3 linked regions of the Homo sapiens genome follow. The protein of the gene in region 1 purifies or fractionates together with the protein of each later gene. This does not show direct contact. Each region holds a gene or a part of one and is shown on either strand. Other genes may lie near its edges.

Region 1 (7,026 bases):
CCAAGCAGAAACTGCCATTAAACTGCCAGTTTAAAAAAAAAAATTGATGAGTCAATCTGAACTCATGTGTCTCTAAGAAGAGTGACTCCAAGCCGGGCATGGTGGCCCATGCCTGTAATCTCAGCACTTCTGGAGGCTGAGGCGGACAGACTGCTTGAGCCCAGGAGTTTGAGACTAGCCTGGGCATCATGGTGAAACTCCATCTCTACAAAAAATACACAATTAGCCAGGTATGGCAGTGCCTGCCTATAGTCCCAGCCACTCAGGAGGCTGAGGCAGGAAGACCACTTGTGCCCAGGAGGTGGAGGTTGCAGTGAGCTGAGGTCGCAACCTGGGCAACAGAGTGAGACCCTGTCTCAAACAAAAAAAAAAAAAAAAAAAGGAAGAGTGACTCCAGGCTTTTACCTCATATAAGGTGGAGGGACAAGCAGACTCACAGGGAGACTGTGGCATGATAAGCACATATAAGTAAACACTCAAAAAGACAATTCAGGTAATAAAAAATGAGGGTAGAAAGAGAAGCATCCAGATCATATGTTTCATGTTTCAGGATTTTCTTAATACTCTGATTCTACTCTTCAAGTAAACTTTAAACTTTCAAATGATGAAATATAAGCATCAGGTTTGTGTTGAACCATGTAAGATACATTTAGAAAATCCGTTCCCATAAATTACATCTAATCAGAATGATTCAAATATAAGGCTCACAGAAAACCTTTCTTTGTCAAAGTCCCAACAGTAATATTCTTCAAAAGTGTATGTTCCATCACGTCATAGTAGGCTACCCAAATTCCAGTGCCTTTACTAAAAACGATATCTGCATTTTTACTTACCAGTCCTAAAATAATTCATAATGGAGTCTCTAGTAATTCCTGGAACCTTGCAGGTAGAAAATAGCATTCGGAATTGATTCATATCTAGAGGAGTATTTCCAACTTTATGAACAGGCACTTTTTCTCTATTAAAAAAAGGATTTTGATCAAAAAGTCATTATAAAATTTAAAAACCAGCCACAACTGAAGTGTTCATCCCCAAATAAGTAAATTAAGCTTCTCAACATTTTGCTACCTGAGACTTCAGGTAAGCCTGTCACTAAATTCACATGTGTCCTTACTTTCTTAATAGCTGCCAGTAGTTCAAGTTATGCCAAAGAGTTATACTTCCTCTTTCTAATTGAGTCCCTTCCTTTGGAGGCCAGTAGTGTTCAAAATGAGCTGCAGGACCCGCAAAGTTGACATTCAATTGTGATGGTATACGAACATCCAGATAGGCAACATTCAGCCACCACTCTTCCAGCTAAAAGAAATTGAGAACATCAGCTTAATGTTCTTCATAATACATGAATGTGTAACTACTGGGAATTTTAAAAAGCAAGCTATATTTGTTCTTTAATTATTCTTCAACATTTAAAAACATGTTTTTTGGCTGGGTGAGGTGACTCACACCTATAATCCCAGCACTTTGGGAGGCCAAGGTGGGAGGATCACTTGAGTCCAGGACCTAGAGGCCAGCCTGGGCAACATAGAAAGACCCTGTCTCTACAAAAAAAAAAAAAATTAATTAGCTGGGCCTGCATGTAGTCTTAGCTACTCAAGAGGCTGAGGCAGGAGGACCACCTGAGCCCAGGAGTTCAAGGCTGCAGTGAGCTATGATTGCACCACTGCACTCCAGCCTTGGTGACAGAGAAAGACCCTGTCTCAAAAATAAATAAATAAAAACATGTTTTCTTGTTTTAAATCATCATAGATATTGAGAAATGTTATTGTGATAATTTCTTTTCAGCGGGGAGCTATAGGATCTTAGGTATTATTTGTTTTAACTACACTATCAAAAACGAGTATCAAGAAAGCACCAAAAGATACCTTCAGAAATATCATTGTATTGTAGTCACAAGTATGCAATAAAGTACATAGGTGTTTCTTCAGAGTACTTGGGGCATAATAGATAATCAATAAATCCTTACCTAATAATAACAGTTATTAAGGCATTAACAATTTTCCTTTTCCAAACAAAAACTGCAATACTAAATCAGAAATATAAAAACTGGCTGGGCATAGTGGCTCACACCTGTAATCCCAGCACTTTGGGAGGCGGAGGCAGGCAGATCACTTGAGGCCAGGAATTTGAGACCAGCCTGGCCAACATGGCAAAACCCTATCTCTACAAAAAATACAAAAATCAGTTGGGTGTGGTGGTGCGCACCTGCAATTCCAGGTGCATGGGAGACTGAGGCATGAGAATAGCTTGAACCCAGGAGGCAGAGGTTGCAGTGAGCCGAGACTGCACCACTGCACTTAAGCCTGGGCAACAGAGCAAGACTCTGTCTCCAAAAAATAAATAAATAAAACAAATAAATAAAAGTTTTCAGTAGGCTTCAAAGTAATTTAGATTTTTCACAGACACTGTTTTCTATGTGTCCCTCTTTCACAATATGCAATTGAATTCCATGCATAAGTAAGCACATCTTATCAAATTACCTGGAGTCTTGTTTGAAGAAAGTGATGTTATAAACTATAATTAGTAATTCAGAAAGAGACATAAACAAAAAAGATACAGATAAAACAACAACTTCTTTACCTTTACCCCTCTTTAATTAAAACAACTCAAGGCTCAAAATTGAGAACAAAGGAATCCGGAAGTGTGAAATTTTATTATTCCATCACAGATATAAATGGTTCATCAAAAAAAATCAGCTTGCTTTTTATTTCTAAAACTAAATGATAGGTACAATAATTATTTCTAGACTAAGGCAATGCTTTTGAATTATACAACCTCATCCTCTGATTCATAGTAGAGAAGTACAGAAATGGTTGAGCTGAAGAAGTTAAAGAATTTTGTGGAAAATTATTGAGACCTTCAATAATTATTATACTAGCTTCCTCAATTTATCTAACTGAAATATACAATATACATAACCATTCTCCACTCTGATTTTTAATGATTCCCTTTCTCCATTGTACTACGAAAATATTTCTATGCCACCTATGTGACATGTCTATTTTAGTGTTTCTGATTTTTCAAGCTAGTCACCTGGACAAAATGTTTTCCTTCAGCATGGTCTACAGATTACCTGCAGCCAAACCACATGAAGTGATTGTTAAAATAAGAATCTCTGGGCCTCATTCCAGCCATGTGAATCAGAATCACTTATCCCAGCAAATCTGCATTTTAACAAGTTCCCGAATCCACCCACTGAAAACTCCCAAAGTTAAGTGATTCATTCCTTCTTTTGGATTATGAAAATAACAATAATAACTGTAAAAATTTTTACAGCAATAATTTAAAAATAAAAACTATGCACTTTTTATTTATCATTCTTTAAACATCATCATTATTCAATTATAACAACAAATACCCAATTTCTTTTTCCTTTTGCTCTTTCAAGCAATTTCTGGTGCAATTTTTCTCCAATCCCACTTTGAAATTTTTGAACTATTTCTTCAGTTTTCTTATATTCTTCTTGATTTGCAAATGGTTTCACTAGAAAGGAAAAATACGTATTAAGGTATTTAGACCAAGTACCACCAACTCACCTCTATTATTACTAACTTATGCAAATCTTAAGACTCAGATATGTAAAACACAGTACTGTATTAAATAGCAGAGCAGAACAATAAAATTAAGAGTTGACAACATGAAAGTGGCGGAAAAGAAACAAAAGATTTGGAAATCCTTGCTTGAGAGAATGGGATTAGCAAGTCGGGAGGGAGCCAGGGAGATGGGCAAAGGACTGCATTTTTCATCACAAGCCTATTTACACTATCTGGCTTTTCAAACTCTGGAAAAATTAACATAAAGAGAGAAAAAAAGTTGGATATTTTAAGGACATGGTTGACTCGAACAACACGAGTTTGAACTGCACAGGTCCATTTATACCTAATAAAAGTTGATAATGAGTGTGCTTGCCTCTCCTGTCCCTACTTCCACCTCCTCTACCACCTCTGAGACAGCAAGACCAGTCCCTCCTCTTCCTCCACCTACTCAACATGAAAACCATCAGGATGAAGATTTTTATGATGATCTACTTCCACTTAATGGATAATAAATATATTTTTCTCTTCCTTATCATTTTTTAATAACATTTGCTTTACTCTAACTTAAATAATTCAGAAAATAATACATATAACATAAAATTATCTGTTAATCAACTGTTTACGTTATAAAGTTGTACTTGAATTTCTTTTCTTTTTTTTTTTTTTTTTTTGAGATGGAGTCTCGCTCTGTCGCCCAGGCTGGAGTGCAGTGGCGTAATCTCAGCTCACTGCAAGCTCCGCCTCCTGGGTTCACACCATTCTCCTGCCTCAGCCTCCCGAGTAGCTGGGAATACAGGCGCCCGCCACCACTCCTGGCTCTTTTTTTTTTTTGTATTTTTAGTAGAGACGGGGTTTCACTGTGTTAGCCAGGATGGTCTCGATCTCCTGACCTCGTGATCTACCTGCCTCCGCCTCCCAAAGTGCTAGGATTACAGGCGTGAGGCACTGCGCACGGCCTGTACTTGGATTTTCTAATACACATGGGTCAGCACCACCAGCCCTGCATTGTTCAAGAGTCACCTATACTTTATTACAAGTCTAGATAAAGAAGCAATTAAACCTTCAACTTCTAACAGTGTTGTTAAGGAAGCAGGAGCTTAGGAGAGCCAGAGTAATGCCGTTTTAATTTCAGCTCCATCTGGAGACTAACAAGGCACAATTCCTTGCTGGTCATGACCCACATTAAGAAGATATTTACAGTTGAGTGAACAGCCTACAGATACCTACAAGGACACACTCCTAAACAGCAGAAAGTCCAGGTATCCCAATACCCATAACAATATATGTTTTCAAGATAATTACAGTTATGTTTGGATGTATTTACACACTAAAATGTCAAGGATAGTTTTATTTAAATCAATAGAATAATAAATTGTGTCATGTTGTCTGCTCACCCACATGTAGACGTAGCTTAGTTTAGTCTTTACATAGATAAAGGCTCTATATAAGAAAAACTTAAAATAAGGATGGTGCCTTCCTTTGCTTGCCCTCTGAGGACGCTCTACTCCGCAATGGAGTAGCTTTCAATAAGCTGTCTCTTCTCACTGCACTCTGCAACTCACCTTGAATTCCTTCCCGCGTGAGATCCAAGAACCCTCTCTTAGCATCTGGATCAAGACCCCTTATCTGGTAGCATGTTCTGGTGACTACAAAGGGACATTAGGATGAGATCCCATGCTGAGGAGATTCAGCCTGCACAGCACTAATTGGCCACCTCTGATAAATGGGGTCTGTCTTGGCATCCTATCAAGGATAATATTTCTAGCCCAATGGGGTTAGAGTCTCTAGGGTATAATATTTGGGTTAGAGTCCCAGCCCAATGGGGTGAGAGTCCCTGGGGTATAATAAAAATTAAAGTAGCCTTGCAAGATGTACGCCAGTATATGCTTTGGACTAATCCACTTTGTCCCCTTTGCCAGATATGGGAAAGCTATACTTCTCATCACTTCCCAACTTGTTGCCTTTGCTTTACTGCAGCTTTACAGTGGCCCCTATGGCCAGCCCAGAGGTTTACTGCATTCACTTTCCACACTTGCCTTCTGACTGTCACCTTTTCGTTTGCTTTGTCATGTCTCAGGATAGCATGGGGAACCTGAGGACTTACAAGATTTGTTCTTGATATATATATTTTGAGACAGAGTCTCGCTCTATCACCCAGGCTGGAGTGCAATGGTGCAATCTTGGCTCACAGCAACCTCCGCCTCCCAGGTTCAGGCGATTCTCCTGCCTCAGCCTCCCAAGTAGCTAGAATTACAGGTGCCCACCACCACGCCCAGCTAATTTTTGTATTTTTAGTAGAGACAAGGTTTCACCATCTTGGCCAAGCTGGTCTTGAATCCTGACCTCAGGTGATCTGCCCACTTTGGCCTCCCAAAGTACTGGGATTACAGACGTGAGCCACTGTGCCCAGCCTGTTCTTGCTATATCTTAAACATTGCAGGACTCAGATGCTTTTACACCCCATGTTAAAACAGGCAGCAATCTTTATCTGCTTGCCCCCTGTGGAAACCTGGAGTCTCATTCTCTTATCTGAAGCTTCAGCCTGTTATCATTCTGGTGGTTACTTTTGCCCTGCAACTATGAAATTAAACAGAGTCTTCTAAAGCTCTCTATTTTTCTCTTCTTTTCTGCCTGATTTGAATCTGTTATTATTAGTCTACTAGTATTGAAATAAAACTTGATGTTTAGGTTACTTAGAGATTTTGTTTTTCTTGTACAGTTCAACCAGAACTGTAAAAGAAATGTACATGTTAGAAACTCATTTGAAACTGAAAAACAAAATGTGAAAAGGCAAAACAAACAAACAAAAACAAAAATAAAAAACCCTCAAACTTTCATGAAGACTACTTTACCCAAAATTTTGGTCTATGGCTTTCCTGGCATGACTCACTGGATATCTGAGTCATTTCCAATTAAGAAATGTTTATAATATGGGAAACATGTTTCTAAAATGTTGGCAGCCTGGGCAACATGGTGAAACCCCATCTCTACAAAAGATACAAAAATTAGCAGGGCATGGTGGCACCTGCCTGCAGTCTCAGCTACTCAGGAGGCTGAGGTTGGAGGATCACCTGAGCTGGGGAGGTCAAGGCTGCAGTGACCTGTGACTACACCACTGCACTCCAGCCTGGGTAACAGTGAGATCTCATCTCAGAAAAATAAAATAAAATAAAATTGTGGAATGATTTTATCTATAAAATGCTAACATCTGACAAATAGTTCTAGGTTTCTTGCTTCCTAAGTTTTTGGATTCATGTATAGGTGAGTGCTCTTTGTTGTCTCTTCCATTCCCTTTGTTGTCCCTTTTCCTTTCTGCAATATACTTTGCAATATACTCAGCCTTCTAGGCCCCAGGAGACACAGGAATACTCATATTCCCCAGGTTGAGGTTAGAGGCCCCACCCAGAGTTGGATAACCTATTTGAGTCTCAGAGTTGTATTTGTCAGTACCTACTGTTTCTTAATCGGCTGTTATTTGCTGTCTGTGTCTCGC
Region 2 (7,026 bases), on another chromosome or scaffold:
GGGGCGTGGCAGGCTGAGGGAACCTGGCGTTTTCATTGAAGGAACGGAGAGGACGCTGGTGTATCTTGGAGAGTGAGGCCAGGTGGGAGGTGAGGTTGGAGAGGTGGGTGTGGGGGAGGGAAGATGGTCTGCAGGTGTGTGTAGTTGCAAGCAGGACACTGAAGGCTAGAAGGAACTTGAAATGCCAGGCTCGGGTGTGCATGGGAGTGTCTCGTAAATGTTGGGAAATGGGCACTGGGACTGAGGCGGGAACACTGGGTTCCAGTGCTGCCCTCTGTGCTGGCACATCAGTACCTTGAGTCACTCTCGATGGTAGTAAAAGTTGAGACCTTCTTACTTGGATAGACTGCAGCTGGTATTTGCTGAGCTCTTGCTGTGCAGGCAGTGTTTTAACTAGACACAAGTCTTGCTCTGGTGGAGCTCATATTTTATTATTTTGTTGGGGTGGAGGAAACAAATAAGCAAGAGAAATATATCAGACACTGCTCAGCAGACAGGAAGGCAGGCAGGCGTGACGGCCCAGGCCTGGGCTCTGAGAGGTGCTGAGGGTGTCTGCAGTGAAGTCACGATGGGCTTGTCTAAGTGGAAGTTCTTGTCAGACACTGCTCTGCAGACAGGAAGGCTGGCAGGTGCGACGGCTCGAGTCTGGGTTATGAGAGGTGCTGAGAGTGTCTGCAGTGAAGTCACAACGGGCTTGTCTAAGTGGAAGGTCTTGCAGAGGGAGCGTTAAGGGTGTGGAGATAATACTTGGTGCACACATCTACCCTTTAAGCAGACTGCCTTTGAGGTCAAGCTCTGGTTACTTTCGAATGTGTCAAACTCTGCATTTCAAACAGGCACAGTATGTTGCAATTCACAGATGTGACTGAGCCCAGTCGAATCACACTGATTGGAGGAAAGCTGAGCGGGCTGTGGCTCCGCGGCGGGTCCTGGGAATAAGTCTCACGTGTGCCTGCTTGCTTGCCCTAGGAAGACCTGGAAGCGCTCATAGCCCATTTCCAGACACTCGATGCCAAGAGGACTCAGACTGTGGAACTTCCGTGCCCCCCACCCTCACCAAGGTGAGCAAGTAGCATTTTTCATATTGTATGTTTCCTTTTCTTCTATACATTGAAAAACTGCTTTAAATAGCACCAGGTTTCGTAAATGACCAGGCACTTGGGACATTTTCATTATTAAAACCTGTTCTTGGTCACTTTCTGCTGAAGAACTGGAATGAGGCTGTAAGCTTTACTGTCATGGAACCTGGGAGCAGGGCCTACAGCACAGCTGCTGCCTCTGGGCTCCGGTGCCAACTTTGAAAGCTCCTCCACTGGTCGTGACGTGGGGATGAAAGTTTTGCCCCAGTGAGCTTTTCTTTGGTTCTTAAGGTATTTTAAAAGTGCGTACTGTAGGCAGAAAGCTGAAAATCACTGTGGCCTTTTGATGTGTTTGTAATGCTTTCAAATTCTCATGTGAAAAGTTTGTTAAACATAAATTGAGTATAAGCCATTTTAAATGGATTTGAAAATTACGTAAAAACGTTCCGAGTCTGTAGGATTTCATACACGTGTGGGATGAGCTGGAATGAGAAATGGTTTATTTCCCTCAGTAGGAGATTAACCTTGCAGGATTTACCCTTTTAATAAAGCTGCTGCAGGCCCTAGTGGAAGCCGGGGTTCAGCCCATCGGGAGTGGAGGGTCACGATTGTGCTGCGTTTGCATTAATGAGGCGCATGTGATGGCTCTGGTGCCCGAGTCCCACCCACCGGCCTCAGAGGCAGGGTTATCATCACCTGCCCAGAGGTGGGAGGAGCACGGTGATCAGCCCCTGAGCAGAGTGAGTGGTGTTGGAGCCACTCCCAAAGGCCAGTGTCCTTCCTGGTTTTCACTTCATGTCCATTAGGATTTTAGTTTTCTTTTTCCCTTTAGTTTGCATGTTGCCCTCAGGGCCAAATGTAAGTTACATGTGGTAAATGTACTTTTTTTTTTCTTTTTGAGATGGAGTCTCACTCTGTCATCCAGGCTGGAGTACAGTGGCATGATCTTGGCTCACTACAACCTCTGCCTCCCAGGTTCAAGTGATTCTCCTGCCTCAGCCTTCCAAGTAGCTGGGATTACAGGCGCCAGCCACCATACCCAGCTAATTTTTGTATTTTTAGTAGAGATGGGGTTTTGCCATGTTGGCCTGGCTGGTCGTGAACTCCTGACCTTAGGTAATCCACCTGCCTTGGCCTCCCAAAGTGCTGGGATTACAGGCGTGAGTCGCTGTGCCTGGCTGTAAATGTACATTTTCATTTGAGTTATTGGAGCAAATAAATCCTTGATCTTAGGCTTCTGATATATAGCACTCCTGAGGAAAGCCACTTTGAATGGGGATTAGTTTTATTTTTTTTGTAGAGACTTTTTTTTTTTTTTTTTTTTGGGACGGAGTCTCACTCTGTCACCCAGGCTGGAGTACAGTGGCGCCATCTTGGTTCACTGCAAGCTCTGCCTCCCGGGTTCACGCCATTCTCCTGCCTCAGCCTGCCAAGTAGCTGGGACTACAGGCACCCGCCACCAAGCCTGGCTAATTTTTTGTGTTTTTAGTAGAGACGGGGTTTCACCATGTTGGCCAGGATGGTCTTGATCTTCTGACCTCGTGATCCGCCCGCCTCAGCCTCCCAGAGTGCTAGGATTACAGGCGTGAGCCACCGTGCCCGGCCCTGTAGAGACTTTTTTTTATGTTGTCCAGGCTGGTCTCGAGTTCCTGGGCTCAAGTCACCGTACCTGGCCTTTTTCTTTTTTTTTTTTTTTAATGATATTTTAGAATTTTTCCATAAGTAATGTTGCCTGAAAGTCAGATTTCATGTCAGGATATAATTTAAGGTGTTGGCAGTTCCCTGGGTCAGCTGGAAATGCTTCCTAATAGGAGGGAGCAGTTATCCTGAGATTAAGATCTTTTGCTTGGTAACCTTAATATCTTCCAACTTCCTATTTCTTAATCATATTACTTTAAAACCTTGTGAGAATGACCAGTTTCTAAATGAGCATATCGTCAGGATTGGCTCTGATGTGACCTACCTGGAAAATGGGGGCATGACACCAGCTGCCTCAGTACCTCACCTGCCTGTGCGGCGGCAACACCTGGGCTGGTGCCGCTGGTGGCTGGGTGGGGACCTCAGTTTGGGCCCCGTGTAGATCGTTTCTGAAGTTGTGTTTGGTGCTTTTCTGCAGAAAATCAATAGGTATTCAGTGAGAAAAGATTCAGGGTCAGAGGAATTTGGGAAACACTCTTTATTTTTTTTTCTGAGACGGAGTGTAGCTCTTGTTGCCCAGGCTGGAGTGCAATGGCACGATCTCGGCTCACTGTAGCCTCCTAGGTTCAAGTGATTCTCCTGCCTCAGCCTCCGGAGTAGCTGGGACAATAGGCATGCACCACCACGCCCGGCTAATTTTGTATTTTTAGTAGAGACGGAGTTTCTCCGTGTTGGTCAGGCTGGTCTTGAACTCCCGACCTTAGGTGATCCACCCACCTCGGCCTCCCAAAGTGCTGGGATTACAGGCGTGAGCCACTGTACCCGGCCTATTTATTATTTTTAAAAAGTTTTTTTTTTTCTTTTTTTCTTTTCTGAGACGGAGTTTTGCTTTTGTTGCCCAGGCTGGAGTGCTATGGCGCGATCTCAGCTCACTGCAACCTCTGGAGTCAGGCTGGCCTCAAATTCCTGACCTCAGATGATCCAACTGCCTTGGCCTCCCAAAATGCTGTGATTACAGGTGTGAGCCACTGCACCCGACCTAAAAAGTTTTTTTTATTGTGGTAAAATGTTTAACAAAATTTGCCATTTTATTTTATTTTTGTTTGGTTTTGGTTTTTTTGAGACAGAGTTTTGCTCTTGTTGCCCAGGCTGGAGTGCAATGGTATGATATCGGCTCACCGCAACCTCCACCTCCCAGGTTCAAGCAATTCTTCCTCAGCCTCCCAAGTAGCTGGGATTACAGGCATGCGCCACCATGCCTGGCTAATTTTGTATTTTTAGTAGAGATGGGGTTTCCTCATGCTGGCCAGACTGGTCTCGAACTCCCCACCTCAGGTGATCCGCCCGCCTCGGCCTCCGAAAGTGCTGGGATTACAGGCATGAGCCAATGCGCCTGGCCAAAATTTGCCATTTTAATCATTAAAACTGTGCAGTTCAGTGGAATTACTTCATGTCGCTGTGCAACCATTAGCACTAACCAGTTGCAACATTGTTTTATCACCCCAAATAGAAACTCTAGACCAACCTTGTCTAACTGGTGGCCCAGGACAGCTTCGAATGCAGCGTGACACGTATTTGTAAACTTTCTTAAAACATGATGAGATTTTTTTTTAAAGCTCATCAGCTATTGTTAGTGTTAGTGTATTTTATGCGTGGCCCGAGACAATTCTTCTTCCATTGTAGCCCAGGGAAGCCAAAAGATGGGAGAAGTGTCTAGACCCTTCAATGGTTGCTCCCTGTTTCCCCTCCCCCAGCCCCCTGGTGACTTCTGGTCAACTTTCTGTCACTGTGAATTGGCCTATTCTAGGTATTTTGCGTAAGTGGAGTCATAGAAGTGTCTTTTTGTGACTGACTTCCTTCACCTGGTATGTCCAAGTTCATCAGTTCTGTGGCATGTGTGAGAACTTTATTTCTTCTTATGGCTAAATCCTGTTCCGTCTGTGGGTATGCCACATTGTGTTTGTCCACTCATCTGCAGACCAACACTTAGGTTATTTCTACTGTTTGGCTTTTGTGAGGCCGTAACGAGCATTGCATACAGGTATCTGTTTGAGCTAATGCCTGGGAACGAACTGCTGGATTATGTGGTGATTCTGTGTTTAGCTTTTAATACTGGTTTCTTTCCTGCAGAAATTCCCAGCCTATGACATGTTTCTATGCAAATAAATCCCCAATAGAAAATAGAGTTCTCAGATTTCCCAAACTCACTTGACCTTGAAACCTGTTTTTCCTTTGAGAAACATCTTTTGGAGTTGGCATTATGGAGCACGCCTTGGGGAACGCCGTCTTAGAGGACTCTGAAGGGAGGATCTTTCCCAGTGATTCGCCAGATAGTCACTGTGTCTTTCATTACTTTCAACTGAAGTGGCCCTATGTATTTATTTATTTATTTTTTGTTTTTTTAAGACAGTCTTGCTCTGTCTCCCAGGATGGAGTGCAATGATGCAATCCTGGCTCACTGCAGCCTCTGCCTCCCGGGTTCAAGTGATCCTCCTGCCTCAGCCTCCTGAGTAGCTGGGATTACAGGTGCCCACCACCATGCCTGGCTACTTTTTGTATTTTTAGTAGAGACGGGGGGTTTCACCGTGTTTGCCAGGCTGGTCTTGAACTCCTCACCTCAGGTGATCTGCCCGCCTCAGCCTCCCAAAGTGCTGGGATTACAAGTGTGAGCCACCGGGCCTGGCCCATAATATTATTATGTAATTTCCTTGTAGCTCTTCTTTTGTTCTCATGTGAAATAAATAGAAAGTTGTTTGTATTTTCTAGATGGAAGATATCTGGCATGTATATTGAAGTACTTACATATGGACTTTTTTTTTTTTTTTTCAGATGGAATCTTGCTCTGTCGCCAGGCTGGAGTGCAATGGCATGATCTCAGCTCACTGCAACCCCCAACTCCCAGGTTCAAGTGGTTCTCCTGCCTCAGCCTCCCGAGTAGCTGGGACCATAGGCACGCACCACCATGCCCAGCTAATTTTTCTATTTTTAGTTGAGACGGGGTTTCGCCATGTTGGCTAGGATGGTCTCGATCTCTTCACCTCGTGATCTGCCTGCCTCGGCCTCCCAAAGTGCTGGGATTACAGGCAGGAGCCACTGCTCCTGGCCTAGTTACTGGACTTTTTAGAATGGTTTTGAGGTGATTTGACAGGATAGGCTCTTAAAAGAGGACAGTTCTGAGGTCCAGGCACGGTGGCTCACACCTGTAATCCCAGCACTGTGGGAGGCCGAGGTGGGCAGATCACTTGAGGTCCGGAGTTTGAGACCAGCCTGGCCAATGCAGTGAAACCCCATCTCTACTAAAAAATACAAAAACTAGCTGGGTGTGGTGGTGGGCACCTGCAATCCCAGCCACTCGGAGGGCTGAGGCAGGAGAATTGCTTGAACCCAGGAGTTGGAGGTTGTGGTGAGCTGAGATTGTGCCATTGCACTCCAGCCTGGGTGACAAGAGGGAAACTCCATCTCAAAAATGAAAAAAAACAAATCAAAAAAACAGTTCTGGAACATTTGATACATCAGTAGGGGCATCTGGACTTATTCCTGCCTGGGGAATTTTTTTTTTTTTTTTTTTTTTGTTAATACAACCAGACACTGTGTCAGTCCAGCTCCATGGTTGTCCTTGGAGTGTGGCCCTGGGCACTGGTAGAGGGGTTGGTGTTCAAGTGGCACCTTTGCTTCCTTTCTCGATGCCAGGCTCTCCTTTCAGGAAGTGTAGAGGCAGCCAGTTTGTGGTGACAGAGGATTCTGTGAGGAAGGGGACAGCGCTCAGGTGGGTATCGGGGGTGATCTTGCTGACCTGCCGCTTGTGTGTCTTGTAGGTTAAATGCCTCCCTCTCGGTTCATCCTGAGAAAGATGAGTTAATCCTTTTTGGAGGTGAATATTTCAACGGCCAAAAAGTAAAGTATATATTTTTTTCTTTTCTTCCCATGTTGCGTGAGTATCATTTGACAGAAAGTTAACTTAAGGCAGTGACATCAAATATGCGTTAGCCCCTTCACCCCTTGTATCACGCGCTTGAGCCGTCAGGCCTGATGTGAGACGTCGCCAGGATGCTCCAGGCCCTGGCATGACTGTTGATGACTTCAGTGGTCCTGGGGTCTCTATTCCTGGGACTTAGGCTGAGGCCCAGCTCTGCCGTCATCACTCTTGGCGGGCGCACCCCTCTTTGTGGTTGTCTGTGCTGTTCTTCCTCCCAGCGGGTTTCCAGGTTTCACACTCAGCTTTCAGGTTGTCTTAAACACGGAAAGTGCTGATAAATTTTAGGGCTAATTTTTATTTTTGAGCAGGCCAGTAAGACCTGTGTTTCACAAT
Region 3 (7,026 bases), on another chromosome or scaffold:
CAAAGTGCTGGGATTACAGGCGTGAGCCACCGTGCCCGGCCTCATATACTTTCTTTTAATCTTCATTCCTTGAACCCATTAACTTACTGTTTAATGGTGTAATAGACAATTCTTGTTTTGTTTTTTAATGAAGAAAAACAAGCCATACCTTTAACCCAGGGCTTCTCAAAGTGGGGTCCCTGGCCAGTAGCATCAGTATCCCCTAAAAAATGTTAGAAATACAAATTCTACTATACCCCTGACCTAGTAAATCAGCATCTCTGGAGGTTTGGACAGTGATCTGTGCTTTAACAAGAGCTCCAAATGATTTCAATGCAAGCTAAAGTCTAAGTTAAAGTCTAAGTAGTTAAACTGTAACTGATTTAAGCTGGCCTTTTTTTTTAATTTTAATTTTTTTTTTTGAGATAAGGTTTTGCTCTGTCACCCAAGCTGGAAAGCAGTGTTGCGATCATCACTCATGGCAGCCTCGAACTCCTAGACTCAAAGCATCCTCTTGCCTCAGCCTCCTGAGTAACTGGGACTACAGGCGTGTACCACCATGCTGGAATGTTTTGTTTATTTATTTTCATTTTATTTTATTTTATTATGAGACGAAGTCTTGCTCTCTTGCCCAGGCTGGAGTGCAGTGGCACTATCTTGGCTCACTGCAACCTGCAACCTCTACCTCCCAGGTTCAAGCGATTCTCCTGCTTCAGGCTCTCAAGTAGCTGGGATTACAGGTGAGTGTCACCATGCATGGCTAATTTTTGTCTTTTTAGTAGATATGGGGTTTTGCCATGTTGGCCAGGCTGGTCTTGAACTCCTGACCTCAAGTGATCTGCCTGCCTCAGCCTCCCAAAGTGCTGGGATTACAGGTGTGAGGTATCACGCCCTGCTGTGCTGGAATACTTAAAAAAGTAGAGATGAGGTCTTACTATGTTGCCCAGGCAGGTCTTGAACTCCTGGACTCAAGAGATACTCTCACCTAGGCCTCCTGCAATGCTGGGATTACAGGCATGAACCACCATGCCAAGCTACTTTCATTACAACGGCCCAAGTAGTACGACTTGGTAGCACTTGACCTATAATTAAAACAATATACTTAAAAGAATCAACTGTCGTTGTGAGTTCTGGACTTAAAAATCTATACATACAAAGTGGTGACAGCAACTATCATAAATGGTAACTTTTTTTTATGTTGCAGCAGTAAAAAGCAAGGTACTCCTAATTTCATAGCTTGAACAGGCAAAAAAATTCTAATAAAACCATTTGTATAAGATACCGTATTTTCCTTTAAATTTAAAATTACTTTTTAATTATATCATTAAAACATATATACCTTCTCCTTGCAAATATTAAAACATTACTGATAATGATAAAGCCTTTGACCAACCTCCCCTTCCAATTCTTTCTTCCACTTAGGGTGTCTCATTGTAGAGATTTTTCTATGCATTTATACACATAAACATACAACCATCCAAACAAAATAGTATTGTTTTTTGATTTTTTTAAGCAATATCATCTTATATACATTATTCTTCAGCTTGCTTTTTTCATTCCACCATGTGTCTTGGAGCTCTTTCTAAGCCAGTACTTAAAGATTTTTTTTAAACTTCTGTATAGGCGTGGACCTACCAGAATTTATTTACACATTCTCCTACTGTTGAGATTATTTCCAATTTTTCACATTTTCACAAAATGCTGCAATGAGCATCCCTATATATGCCCTGTTGGGTTTCTGAATTGCGTTATCAACTGTAACTCAACTGTGACATAAATGTTATTGACTTGAAAGTAAATCTGGATCAGAAAAATGTTACAGCCTACCTAGAATGCACAGTATTTTTAAGAGATTTATAGCCACCAAGATCTCACTTTAAAAATGAACTTCTCTGAATCAATAATTTTGGCAACAGGGTAGCCGTATATAGAAAAGGTTCAGCTTTGAACAAAAAGGGATAAAATGCCTGGCAACACCCACATTTCTTCATAGTTCTCACTACTGAGGATGGTGATGAAAACCAGCACTGACTCAGTCTGGGCCAAGTGCCAGGCACTTTATGGCTGTTAACTAATTTAATCCTCACAACCACCTCATGAGGTAGGCAGTGCTATTATCCCAGTTTCACAGAGGAGGAAACGCAGGGCAGGGGGTTAATTCACTCAGCCAGTAGGACATAGAGGTGAGACCTGAACCCAGATGTTTTGACTCCAGAGTCTTACCCATCACAGAGGCTGATTTGAAACAAAATCTTGCTCCAAAGGGTGTTCACTAATATGTAAAAATATAACTACAAATGGAAGGTTGCTGTTTTCATTCTTTGTGAATGGCATTTTTCTTTTGTTAACCAGGGCTGGACAGCAAAGTTCATAAAAACAGTTCTTGGCAGCTCCTTAACCAAGCACAGTCTATCAAACCACTCCAGGGAGAGAAGTATACAAAATAGTCTAAAGAAAAATCTTGTTAAAAGAATAAGAAGGCCATGCGCTATGGCTCACGCCTGTAATCCCAGCACTTTGGGAGGCCGAGGTGGGCGGATCACGAGGTCAGGAGATTGAGACCATCCTGGCTAACATGGTGAAACCCTGTCTCTACTAAAAATACAAAACATTAGCCGGGTGTAGTAGCGGGCGCCTGTAGACCCAGCTACTCAGGAGGCTGAGGCAGGAGAATGGCGTGAACCTGGGAGGCGGAGCTTGCAGGAAGCTGAGATCGTACCACTGCACTCCAGCCTGGGCGACACAGCCAGACTCCATCTCAAAAAAAAAAAAAAAAAAAAAAGAATAAGAAATTGTGCTGATCTCAAGTTTAAAACTGACAGAGCATACAGCTATTTAAGAAGAGAACTAGGAAAGTTTTACCTACCGAGCCCATTCATTTTGCTACTAAACGGGAAAGGAAAGGTACTTCTACTTAAACCTCCCAGTACTGTTTTTAACAACACATGATGCTATTGCTAACCTTGACTAAATTACTCTTCATCAATGAAGAAGGCAGAACACTAAAGGTGACATTTTGAAGATGGAAATGAAACTTTCCATCTGTGATTCTATCATCATATTTGTCATTTTGGCCAACCTCATTGTTAGGGTGCATTTAAATAAATATGTTTAAAGCTCCATTGCATTAAAAAGATACCATAAAAGATTTCTTTAGAAATCTTAATATTTTCATATACTTCAAGGCGAGAAACCAACATAAAGAATCAAACTTGGCCCCTTTCCACAACTGTATGTATGTGTGTGTATATATATATATATATATCATATTCACTTTACACAAAAACAATCTCAAACACAGGTGCAGCTACTTTCACATCTGTAATGGTAAGACCATCAGTGACAGAGCATAACAATGTAAACCAGGCCAACTGGCTACTGCGATAGGTGGAATAGGGAAAGAAATGTGAAGGGTAAAAGAAATGTTGCAAATGGAAGAAGTGAATAAAAGCAAATGATTGGGAAAAAGAAGGTAAAAAACAAAGAGTGTCAGAAAGGGAAGAAACCAGCCCAGGTCAACTCCTGCAGGATAGCTGGACCAGAGGAGCATCTGGAAAAATCCAGACTGAAGGGATCTTATCTCCCATTTAACAGAAACTGACAGAACTTAGCTCTGGCTTGGACTGAAAACAGAGGCAGGACGAAATTAGAAAACACTTAAGTGAAGGACCTGGACAAACATCTTAGGCCTGAGGAAACATCTCAAGAAGGGTTCTCCCAAATTGGATAAAACTTGGCTTTGTAATTAAACATGCACCTGTGATTTACAGGTATTGAAACTCCTCTGGCTAGACTAAGGAAGTTATTTGCATTCTACAACTTAAATGAATGAGACAGCCAATGAAGAATGGTTAAGAAGCACAAGGGGCAGAATCTCACTCCCAAAGCTGTTTTTGAATAAGGAGCCTCGTCTTTGACCCTTTAGGAACCAGAGCAAAGGTCAGTATTTGGAATACCTAGGGCATTTCTCACCATAACCATCTCTATTGACTTCCAAGAGTATCCCATCAGTCCCCCAAAAGGAGTTTGAAAATCAAGTGTGAATTCCAAGTGAATTTCAGAGAATGTGGTAGTTAAGAGAATCACCAACCTACATGAGAAAACAGAACATATGAGACTAGGACAGGATTGGGAGAGCAAAGAATGAAGTCCTGTTCCTCACTTCTCAGCTTCCACATCACTTAGATGTCTGGCACACTCCAGCACAATCAAAAGTACAGGAGTAAAGTGCTATTAGAGAGAATCTCAGTGATACTCACTTCTTTAGAAAATCTTGAAAGTCAGCTGGTAAGTCACTAGGGATGGTCACAGGGTACTCTCCACATTCCTGTCCTTGGCTGAGGGACAGCAGCAGAAGGCCAAGACGCCAAACATCTCCTTTCTTCCCCGTTTTATAAGGCAGAGCATTGTCACTAAAACGAACTCGGGTTTGCTCAAACACATCCTCCTTGCAAATGTCTGCGAGGCGCTTAGAAATGCTATAGTCCGTAATCTTGACGGTGCCTTCTGCATCCACCAAGACATTAGATGCACTCAGGACCTTATGCACCACAGAATTGCTGTGCAGATAATCAAGGCCTGACAGGAGCTGAGCTGTGTACCTGCGAAGCTGATGCACAGGGATGGGGCCTGAGTGGCTCAGGTGTGCAGCAAGAGAGACCCCACTAATGTGCTCCACTAAAATGTCCACCACGATGGAGTCGTCTTGCTCTTTGAGATTCATTGCAAGGTAGCGTACTACATTTGGATGGCTCAATTTTACCAGTGAGTTGAATTCTGTTTCTGTTCCTTGAATCTGATAAGTTAAAAAAAAAAAAAAAGAATATTGGGCCAGTCAACATTAACTTGGGTTTCATTTCAAAAGTGAAGTATTTGATCATACAAGATGGGGGCATAAAAAAACAAAACCAAAACCAAAAGTGAAGTATTTGATAGAAAATATACTTTCAAATGAGAGGAGAACAAATATGCCCTAAACTGAATCCTCCCCAAACCATATGGTCAATCTAATAGTTCATAAAGATGGAAAAAATTTAGCTAATTCTCAACTTCTCTAATCTCAAAACCTACTATGCATATACTACAAAATTAGTGAACAGTTTTTAAAATAAAATTCTTTTGAGGTATAGCCACTAGAAAAAACAAACTTTAATTTAAAAATAACCTTTTCTGATTAGCTTTGTATTTGGGTTTTTAAAAATATAGTATATGATTTGAGCAGCAGAATAATGGCCACATCCTAATCCTCAGAACCTCACATGGCAAAGAGGAGTTAAGGTTGAAGACAGAAAAAAAAAATCTTTTCTGATTTAATAAAGATCATTGTCAACATTTAAAAAATTAGTTTGATAGAAAATACCCACATGTTATCTATGTGGTCACCACCCAGTGATAACTCAAGATTTTGGCACATTTACTTTCAGTTTTCTTTCTATACTTAAATACACACACATTTCTGAACACCATGCTTTATCTACGTTTTTGTAAACCTTGTTATTATGTAACACTGCAATATGCAATACTGAATGTTCTCCTTATGCTTGGTTATAAATCATAATTTATAAATTAACTTAAAAATCCTCCGGTCCCCCAAAATTCAGTTTTGAAGCAGTATTTTTCTTTTCTTTTTTTTTTTTTGGAGACAGGGTCTTGCTCTATCACCCAGGTTGCAGTTCAGTGGCATGAACACAGCTCACTGCAGCCTCAACCTCCTGGGCTCAAGCAATTATCCCACCTCAGCCTCCCGGGCTCAAGCAATTATCCCACCTCAGCCTCCCAAGCAGCTGGGACCACAAGTATGTGCCACCATGCCCACAGATTTTTAAATTTTTTGTAGAGACAGGGTTTCACCATGTTGCCCAGACTGGTCTCAACCTCCTGGGCTCAAGTAGTCCTCCTACCTTGGCCTCCCAAAGTGCTGGGATTACAGGTATGAGTCACTACACCCAGCCCTGAAGCAATATTTCAAGAGTAGGGAAAAGAAGAATTGCAAAAAAACCCAATTATGAACTAGTATTTAGTCCCAGTTGGAAAGATGACTGTTAATGCCATACTAAGGGCTAAGAAAGGAGGTTAAGAAGGCAGCTGGAAGTGCTTTGATCATGTTGTGAAAGTTCTGAAACCAGAGGCAAGGGGCAAAGAGGTACTGGTCCTTCACTGTCCTCCCTGGTCAAACAGTTCTCATACTGCTCTGGACCATCTCTGCAGGGCAAACAAATGCAGGGCTATTTTGTTCTGTCATCTCCTAAAGCCTGAGATTAGGCCTTTTGCTCAGTCAGCCACCTTGGATGCTTACCTGCTTTTTGCACTTATCAATCTTCTCTTTTTCTTGACTGGTAAGGAATGGACCCATTTTTTTCTGCCACTGAAGGACCCACTCATACAACAAGACAAAGCCACCAGTGGCTGTTTCCAAAGCATTGTAGACTAATTTTCCAAGTTGTTCATCACTGCCTGCACATTAAACAGAAAGTGTAATTAAATCCCACTGGTATGTTTTCTCTTGGGGGAAGGAAGGGAGGGGGTAATACACATTCTTTAGTTCAACAATGGATACCATGCGCTAACTATGGAAAATAGGACTTTATGTAATAATGTCCTTTTGTAAACAATTTTTGATATTTAGCAATATACCTGAGTCCTAAAATAATTTTTTATAAGGGGCAAGAATCTACAATGAGATCTTAGTATCAGGCAAATAAAGAGACCAATGTTTGGCCAGGCGTGGTGGCTCACGCCTGTAATCCCAGCATTTTGGAAGGCCAAGGCAGATGGATCACCTGAGGTCAGGAGTTCGAGACCAGCCTGGACAACATGGTGAAACCCCGTCGCTACTAAAAATACAAAAAAATTAGCCAGGTTTGGTGGCGGGCACTTGGAGTCTCAGCTACTTGGGAGGCTGAGGCAGGAGAATCGCTTGAACCTGGGAGGCGGAGGTTGCAGTGAGCCTACAACGCACCATTGCACTCCAGCCTGGGCGACAAGAGCAAGACTCTGTCTCAAAAAACAAAAGAGGCCAGTGTTTTATGCTACTAGCCATTATGCACA

What was found. The genes of interacting proteins can lie anywhere in the genome.
Region 2: the proteins of CROT (region 1) and KLHDC4 purify together in Homo sapiens (affinity purification with mass spectrometry; 3 studies listed by BioGRID and IntAct, with this or other methods). This does not show direct contact.
Region 3: the proteins of CROT (region 1) and EIF2AK4 purify together in Homo sapiens (affinity purification with mass spectrometry; 3 studies listed by BioGRID and IntAct, with this or other methods). This does not show direct contact.

The regions. Positions count from the first base shown.
Region 1 is NC_000007.14:87,355,660-87,362,685, reverse strand, and holds part of CROT (peroxisomal carnitine O-octanoyltransferase), read right to left. Parts: intron 5,180-7,026; coding exon of another isoform or gene 5,096-5,179; intron 3,481-5,095; coding exon 3,356-3,480; coding exon of another isoform or gene 3,332-3,355; exon of another isoform or gene 2,632-3,331; intron 1,297-2,631; coding exon 1,115-1,296; intron 959-1,114; coding exon 834-958; intron 1-833. UniProt on the Homo sapiens protein: Beta-oxidation of fatty acids. The highest activity concerns the C6 to C10 chain length substrate. Converts the end product of pristanic acid beta oxidation, 4,8-dimethylnonanoyl-CoA, to its corresponding carnitine ester.
Region 2 is NC_000016.10:87,755,984-87,763,009, reverse strand, and holds part of KLHDC4 (kelch domain-containing protein 4), read left to right. Parts: intron 1-969; coding exon 970-1,061; intron 1,062-6,530; exon of another isoform or gene 6,531-6,532; coding exon 6,533-6,611; exon of another isoform or gene 6,612-6,616; intron 6,617-7,026.
Region 3 is NC_000015.10:39,965,092-39,972,117, reverse strand, and holds part of EIF2AK4 (eIF-2-alpha kinase GCN2), read right to left. Parts: intron 6,433-7,026; coding exon 6,275-6,432; intron 4,775-6,274; coding exon 4,239-4,774; intron 1-4,238. UniProt on the Homo sapiens protein: Metabolic-stress sensing protein kinase that phosphorylates the alpha subunit of eukaryotic translation initiation factor 2 (EIF2S1/eIF-2-alpha) in response to low amino acid availability.